Linked DNA regions of Homo sapiens. The protein of the gene in region 1 interacts with the protein of each later gene in a biochemical or structural test. Each region holds a gene or a part of one and is shown on either strand. Other genes may lie near its edges.

What was found.
Region 2: the proteins of TLX2 (region 1) and NFIC form a complex in vitro, tested with the Homo sapiens proteins (one study listed by BioGRID).

Annotation. Positions count from the first base shown.
Region 1 is NC_000002.12:74,512,974-74,517,331, forward strand, and holds TLX2 (T-cell leukemia homeobox protein 2), read left to right. Parts: upstream 1-1,476; 5' UTR 1,477-1,833; coding exon 1,834-2,233; intron 2,234-2,659; coding exon 2,660-2,897; intron 2,898-2,999; coding exon 3,000-3,216; 3' UTR 3,217-4,175; downstream 4,176-4,358. UniProt on the Homo sapiens protein: Transcription activator that binds DNA elements with the consensus sequence 5'-CGGTAATTGG-3'. Binds DNA via its homeobox. Required for normal cell death of enteric neurons in the gastrointestinal tract.
Region 2 is NC_000019.10:3,373,047-3,376,847, forward strand, and holds part of NFIC (nuclear factor 1 C-type), read left to right. Parts: intron 1-3,801.

The DNA.
Region 1 (4,358 bases):
GAGAAAGGAGGGGGCAGAGTCTTTCCCAGGGGATCCTGGAGAATCAGTTTGAAGATCAGTGCTCCCAGGGAGATCCAGCTAGTAGACTTACAAAGCATTTCGGTTCACACGGGAACCAGCAGGATGGAGCTGAACAGCGGGGTGGGCTCGGGACGAGGGTAGAGGGCTGGCACAGCAGGGTAAGGTCCTTTGGCCACCACGTGTCAGAGGTAGGCTGAGCTGCTCGTTGGTGCCCACCCGCCACCGCCACCGCAGGATGGTAGAAGCGCCCCCCTCTCTGAGCCCAGTCTCACCGGCTCAGAGGCGCCAGGGCCCCCCCGGGGGCCGGGGCGGGCCGGGGAAGGTAATGTAATTCCGGCCCAGCTAACCCGATTACCGCGGCCTGCACCGGGCAGGGCGGCGGCGGGGGCGGGTCTAAGGCTCAGGGGCCCGCCCGCGGGGGTCCCATCCCCGGGAAGGACGCAGAGTTCACGCACTCCCGGCTCCTGGATTCATGGCCAGAGGTCACAAGGTCACCAAGCGGCTTAGGTCTTTCCCCACCTCCCTTCTCTGACAGCTCCAGGCCATTTTTTGAGTTTGGGTGGGGTAAAATGTTTATGGGAAACAAGGCGGCCAGGATCCAACCAAGGCCTCAGTGAGGTCCCACGTGTCCCCCGTGGCGAGATTTCGCCCTCCCGCCGTTGAGGAGGAAGAGTGTGAGAACAGACTTCCTAGGCACAGAATGGAGGGGCAGAGTCCTGCATTGAGGACTCCCTGCACTTGGGGTCCGGGGGTAAGTGCCAGCCCCAAGAACCCGCCGGCCTGATTTGGCCCGGGTTGAGCCATGGTCCGTTTTACACGGATTTTGGAAAATCGAAATTCTAGGAAACACAGGACACCAATTACCGGTGCGCATGAACAGGGCTGGGGGGACCTACAGGAGAGGCCAGAAGGCGCACCACGATCGCCAGCCCAAAGCGGCCGTTCCCCGCCCTTAGCCCCTGCCGTCCCCTTCCCACACCTGTTCTCTTCCTGGGCCTGCAGCTCACCGGGCGCCGTTCCCCAGCCGCTTCTTACGCAGCCGGGAAACCACAACGAGATTTGGTCTTCGAGAGCATTTAGGCGGGGACCACAACGAATCCGGGAGTTGGCCAGAAGGATCCATCGAGAGGCGAAGAGTGGGGGCTGGGGGAGGAGGCACCTGCGGAGGAAGCCGGTGAGGCGGAGGCAGCCCAAAGGCGGAGGCCGCCCAAAGGCGGAGGCCAGCAAGGATGGAGGCGCGGTGAGCATCTCCGCTGACTCAGCGGCCCATGCTCGGGCCCCTCCCGCGCTGAGCCTGGCTCCTAACACCCTGGCCCCCTGTCCCCCTCCCCGCACATCTCCGCCAGCCAGCCTTCCCCCTGCGCTTGGCGCAAACAGGCGTCCCTTCCCCTTTAACTGCTGGGCCCCGCCCCTGCCCTACCCCCAGCCCCCACTACCCACCCGGGCCGATCCGTCAGTCACTGCCCCAGCCGGAGCTGGCCAACCCTCTCCACCCGGGACTTGGGCAGCGGCGCCGGCAGCCCAGCGTCTATTTGCGCTTAAGAGCCAGCAAGGAAGCTCCAGGGGCCCCAGCTGGCCGTGCTCCCCCGGGATGCAAGTCCCTGCGCTGACGCCCGGCAGCGGCTGGCACGGGCGCGGCTGCTCCGGGTGCACAGGGATGCTGCTGTTTCGGGGACCCCGGCGCCCTGCCTTGGCCAGCCCCGCGGGCCCCTGAGGCCACTCTCCGGAGCGCGCCGCCGCTGGGCTTCTGGCGCTGCCTGAGGCATCCTCCCCAACCACCGAACCTCCGGCGGTTCTCCTCGGCCCAGACCGATGGAGCCGGGGATGCTGGGTCCACACAACCTCCCACACCACGAGCCAATCAGCTTCGGCATCGATCAGATCCTGAGCGGCCCCGAAACCCCAGGGGGCGGTCTAGGCCTGGGTCGCGGGGGCCAGGGTCATGGGGAGAATGGGGCGTTCTCGGGTGGATACCACGGAGCCTCGGGCTACGGTCCCGCCGGCTCACTTGCCCCGCTGCCCGGCAGCTCCGGAGTGGGCCCAGGCGGCGTGATCCGCGTCCCTGCGCACCGCCCGCTGCCTGTGCCGCCGCCCGCTGGGGGGGCGCCTGCAGTGCCTGGGCCCTCGGGTTTGGGCGGCGCCGGAGGCCTAGCGGGACTCACCTTCCCCTGGATGGACAGCGGCCGCCGCTTTGCCAAGGACCGGCTCACGGGTGAGGTTGTCTGACCCCTCCAGCGTCACGCCCGACTCTGACCCCGTCTCCTCATTTCTTAGCTTTCTGCTCCAACTCAAGGACCCCTTTCACACCTCCCACTAGATCCTCCCAGGGGATCCTCCCCCAACTCAAATCTCTGGGTCCTGCCTCCGAGAGGTGATGGGGAGGGAGCTGCCGTCGGTGCCCGCGCCCTCCTCTGTAGTCCCACTGTCCACGCGTGGGGAGGGGAGGGTGAAGTTACAGGGGACGTCTCCCTCGCATCCCAGGGGAAGGGCCTTTCTTGGCTATAGGGCTCGGCTGATGCTTAGGGCCCGGGTAAGGACAGGGCGCGGGAGTTCTGCGGCCTGGACAGCCGCGCGGCCTTCTCAGTGGCACCTCGGGCCACCCTGCAAATCCTGCCCTGGTCTTTCTTCCTCCCGGTAGCTGCGCTCTCGCCCTTCTCTGGGACGCGCCGCATAGGCCACCCCTACCAAAACCGGACCCCTCCGAAGCGGAAGAAGCCGCGCACGTCCTTCTCCCGCTCACAGGTGCTGGAGTTGGAGCGGCGCTTCCTGCGCCAGAAGTACCTGGCCTCTGCGGAGAGGGCGGCGCTGGCCAAGGCCTTGCGCATGACCGACGCACAGGTCAAAACGTGGTTCCAGAACCGACGCACCAAGTGGCGGTGAGGCGCGGCGCGGGCGAGGGCGGACTGGGGTTCCCGAGCAGGGCCTGGTGAGAAGCGACGCGGCGGGCGCCCCGCTGACCCCGCGTCTCCCTCCCTTAGGCGCCAGACGGCGGAGGAGCGCGAGGCCGAGCGGCACCGCGCGGGCCGGCTGCTCCTGCATCTGCAGCAGGACGCGTTGCCACGGCCGCTGCGGCCGCCGCTGCCCCCGGACCCTCTCTGCCTGCACAACTCGTCGCTCTTCGCGCTGCAGAACCTGCAGCCCTGGGCCGAGGACAACAAAGTGGCTTCAGTGTCCGGGCTCGCCTCGGTGGTGTGAGCGACGCCCGTCCGATCGGCGTGGAGCGCCGGGCCCGGAGCGGTGGAGCGCGCGGCTGCCTGCGTCCATGGTCTAGTGGCAGCCGGGCGCGTGAGGAGCGGCAGGCCTTGAGGCTGTCGTCGAGGGCTCCTCCACCACCGGCCGGCTCCCAAGCCAGCGTTGCGCAGATGCACGGCCAGCTCAGAGGCGGCCTTTCCCGCCATTTTTCACTTCACTGCCGTTACGCCCTCGCTGGAACCTGAGGCGCCGAGAGGGCGGGACCTGCAGGACAGTAGCCAATGAGGTGCGGGGAGGGGGCCGGGCTGGCCAATGGGAGCTGCTTTCCTGAGGGACTCGAAATTCTCCGGCGGGTGGTCGGGAGCTGGGGCTCTGAGGGGCTCTAGCGGCGTTGCGCGCGGTGCCGGCTGGGTCTGTACCAAAGGTGTGAAGGAAAGAAGACACCGACCACGGCGAAGCAATAGAGGGGGTGCTGGAGCGCGAGAGGCTGGCTGATTGTGACCGAAACCAGAGGGTTGTCCACCCCGGGCATCTCATCCCTCAACTGTAAAATAATCGCTAAGGATTCCTTCCTGACTTTGAGCCTCACGTTGTCATGTGTGTTCAGCCTGCTGGCCACATCCTCCGGCAACACGCCCGGGCAGGAGGCGAGTCGGATACTTACACACCCAACGAAAGAGAAAATCTGGCTCCGGTGTCACATAGGGACAGAGAAGGGAGAGGAGGAAACAGTGGACAAAGTTAATGGGCCCAGTGGAGTTAGGGTGAAGAGAATTTGGAAAATAATTTGGAAGTGACAAGCTTAAGAAGAATCAAAGGTAATTCCAAGACTGGAAATGTGCAGCATCAGGAAATCAATGGTGCTGTGGATGATGAAAGGGAAATTGGGAAGACTGGAGCAAAATTAACTGTATAGGCAAAACTAAATGTTATACCTAGAGAGAATAAATCCTGGAGAAGTGCCTTTGAGGGAGATCAGCTGACATCCACATAGAGGTGGACCTAGATAGAATGAATGAGAACAGATAGAATCTCTGAGGGAGGGAACTCTTGAGGAGAAAAGCAGAGTTCTAAGGACTAAACCTTTCCACCAAATTCGACAACCACCTTTGCAATGTGCAAGATGATGGAGAATACCTAAGTCA
Region 2 (3,801 bases), on another chromosome or scaffold:
GTTGGCCAGGCTGGTCTTGAACTCCTGACCTCAGGTGATCCGCCCGCCTCGGCCTCCCAAAGTGCTGGGATTACAGGTGTGAGCCACCGCGCCCGGCCCCTATTTCGTAGTAGACGTGATAGCTCAGCAAACGCTCAGCCTGTAAGAGGCACAGCCTCGCTCCCTGCCTCTCTCCTCCACCTCCTGGCCCCTCTGGCTCAGCCCTCATTGTCCTCCCAGAACATCAAGGCACAGAGGGAAGTAGGGGACCCAGGGTTCATTTTGCTGACTCACTGCCTTGGCAGAGAGTTTGAACCCTGTGGACTCAGTTTACCCAAATTCCTCACTGTGGCCCACAAGGCCCTGCCCAGCCTGTCCTTGTCCCCTCCTCAACCCTCCCCTCCTCTCTCTTTCCCCCTTGCTCATTCTGCTCCAGCCACATGGGCCTCCTCGCTGTTCCTCTAACACGCCAGGTGCGGTCCTGCCCCAGGGCCTTTGCATGACCCATTTCTCCATCAGAAAGCTCCTGGCCTGGAGTGCCATCTCTCAAGACTTTGTTCAGGTGTCTCCTCCTGCAAGAGACCTTCCTGGACCCCCCCCCCAAGCTAAAAAACACCCCCCACCCCAGAGATTCTCTGGTCCCTCAAACTCTTAAATTTCTTCAGAGCACTTTGCCCAACTTGACGTTTTATTACATATTTTGCTGATTTTAACCATCCGTCCCTGCCCCAGATCTGGATCCAGGTGAGGGCCGAGCCCAGGTCCCTGCCAAGTCCTCGGCACCCTACCTGGGACCGGCATGCAGCAGGCACTCACTAAATGTTTGCTGAGCAACAGAATGAATCTTCCCTCTCTGGGAGCCGTTCACATGTCCACAGGCTGTGATTTTCTGAGCCAGGGGAAGGAGCGGCCCAAGGTTAGAGCCTGACGCTGGTGCCGGATGGGCCTGGGGTTGTCCGTGGGACCATGGACAAGTCATCCGACCCGGAGAAGAAGGCATTAGAACTAAGGCTTTGAAGGATGCGTAGGAATTTGGGATAAGTGCTAAGTAGGTAATGAGCTAGATTCTCATGAAGGATTGTTGAGTCACTTTTACCTGGAAACTTTTGGTTTGGAAATTGGAGTTTCTTGTCCTGGTTTGCTGGCCTGGACTTTCAGGGTGGGAGGAGCACAGGGAGGTGAGTGAGGGCATCACCCAGTGCATGGCGTGGTCGTTCAGCAAGGTCTTGGGTCCAGATGTCTCTCCCAGCTGCTGCTGCTCTCTTTGGCCAGGAAGTCCCAGTGGGCTAAGCTGGGGTTTCCAGGAAAGACCTAGCCTTGTTCCCCTTCTCCCCATCACCTTGCAAGGAACAAGGTCACCAGGCAAGCTCCCCTGTCTCCAGCAGGCTGCAATATTCCTTTCTGCCCATTGTACAGAATGAGAGACTGAGGCTTATCTGAGGTGATCTGTTCCCCAGCCATTCAGATGGTGAAAATAGACCTTACTGTCACCCAGCCACCTTCTCCGACAGTGGGTGCCTCAACTCTGGGCCTCAGGATTGGAGAGGGAGAGGTGATAGAACTGGATGGTCCTGGCTAGATCTGGGAAACCCTGGGTTGAGGAGGAAAGGCTGCTTGAAGGAGGGGACACTAGAGATAGGGCGTTGAGGGATGTGTAGGAGTTTGGGAGGATTTTCAGCATCTAGCTTGTCTTGGTTATCTCTTTTGCCGGTTGGGCCTCTGAGGGCAGTAGGAGGTCCCTGGGGAAGAGGCCCTGGTTATTGCAGGTCATGTGGGAGAAACAGAGTGACAACCGGCCAACCAGGCCCTGCCTCTCACGTGGTCTGATCCCCTGGGGAGGACAAGGGAGGATGGGGCAGCAGGTCCATGACCCAGTTACAAGCTGTTTGTCTTCCTGCCTCTGTAACTAGCCGGGGTCACCACTGACGTGGGCCCCCACCCCTGCCCGCCTCCCTGGCACCTGTCCCCGGAAAGGGCACAGAGAAGGGGAGGAACATAGAGAAGGGAGGGACAGTTAGGGAGGAGGAAGGGAACTCAGATCTACGAGGGGCCAGATGAGAAAAGGAATTAAGAGGAGAGGGGAAGTGGGGAGGGGGAATTCAGAGAGAGAGGGGGGTTGGGGAGAGAAGGAGTTGGGGGGACAGTGATCCCTGCCCCCATCATGGATGCCTCCCCTGTCCCTTCCAGCAGCCTCTTATCACAGCCCCAGTAAGCGCCAGAGCTTGGGTGGCAGCCACGGCCCCAGCTGGACAACATTGTCCGGGCCTCCTGCCCGCCTGGCATCTCCTCCACAGGCAGGTCCTGCGCCTCTATGGGTCCTCTCTGCCGCGTCCCACTGTGCCCCCCACCACCCCCACTGCCCGGCTTCCCTGGCCAGACCATCTGGGCTCTGGTCCCAGCTCTGCTGACCGGCTGTGTGACCCTGGACAAACCACTCCCCATCTCTGGGTCTCATCCAGTCAGGGGCAGGGACGAGATTGGACAGGGCCTGGGCCGGGCCCCCTCCACCTCCCCTTTGCCTTAGCAGGTTGGCTGGGGAAGCGGGGGCAGCGGAAAAGGGCCCTGAGGTCCGGTCCCCGCCGCAGCTGTTACGGTGACTCACGCTTTGGGGGACATTGGGGTGGGGGAGCTTCGCTGGTACAAGCTGACTCTGGTCTCACTGGGTGGGGAGGCTATTTTCAGAGCCTCAGTAATAGGTGAAATCTGATGTCCTGCCCCTCCCCCCGAAGCACCCCACGGCCGGAGGTGGCCCAAGGGGACGTGGAGCACAGAGCAGGGAGGGTGATCTGGCAGCAGCTGCTCTGCCCATCCCGGCCTGGAAATGGGACCGAGTCCAGCCACATCCGCTGGCACACACAGTGGGAGTCCAGGGTCAACGTCTCCCTACCTTCCTGAGACCCCAATCTTACAGAGAACAGGCTGTTCTGAGAAAGGGACCCGTGGCCTTCCAGGGGGTCAGGGCCCTGATTCTTATCCTCACACCGGCCCTGAGACCCTGTGGGACCTCAGCCAGGTCTCCGCCCCTCTCTGAGCCTTAGTTTCCATGCCACAGAACACGGAGCGGGGCCTCAGGCTGTTCCCTGCTTCCTGGAAGATTGTCTGCAATCAAAATGATCATCGCAGCAATCGCGTCCATAGTAATGAAAATACCCCAGCATCTTAGAGGGGCCGAGGCGGGAGGATCGCTTGAGCCCAGGAATTCGAGACCAGCCTGGGCAACATAGCAAGACCCCCATCTCTACTAAAAGTACAAAAATTAGCTGGGCATGGTGGCGCACCTGGAATCCCAGCTACTCGGGAGGCTGAGACATGAGAATCGCCTGAACCCAGGAGGCGGAGGTTGCAGTGAGCTGAGATCATGCCACCGCCCTCCAGCCTGGGCAACAGTGTGAGACACTGTCTCAAAAAAAAAAAAAAAAAAAAAAAAAAAAAAAGGAAAGAAAATAGAAAATATCCCAGTGCCTTAGGAGGCCGAGGTGGGAGGATCACTTGAGCCCAGGAGTTTGAGACCGGCCAAGGCAACACAGTGAGTGAGACTCCATCTCTGCAAAAATAAAAATTAGCCAGACATGGTGGTTTGCACCTGTAGTCCCAGCTACTCAGGAAGCTGACGTGGGAGAATCGCTTGAGTCTGGGAGTTCAGGGCCCAAGTGACCTAAGATCGTGCCACTGCACTCCAGTGAGACGCCTGTCTTTTTTATTTATTTATTTATTTATTTTGAGACGGAGTCTCGCTCTTGTTGCCCAGGCTGGAGTGCAATGGCGCGACCTTGGCTCACTGCAACCTCTGCCTCCCGGGTTCAAGTGATTCTCCTGCCTTAG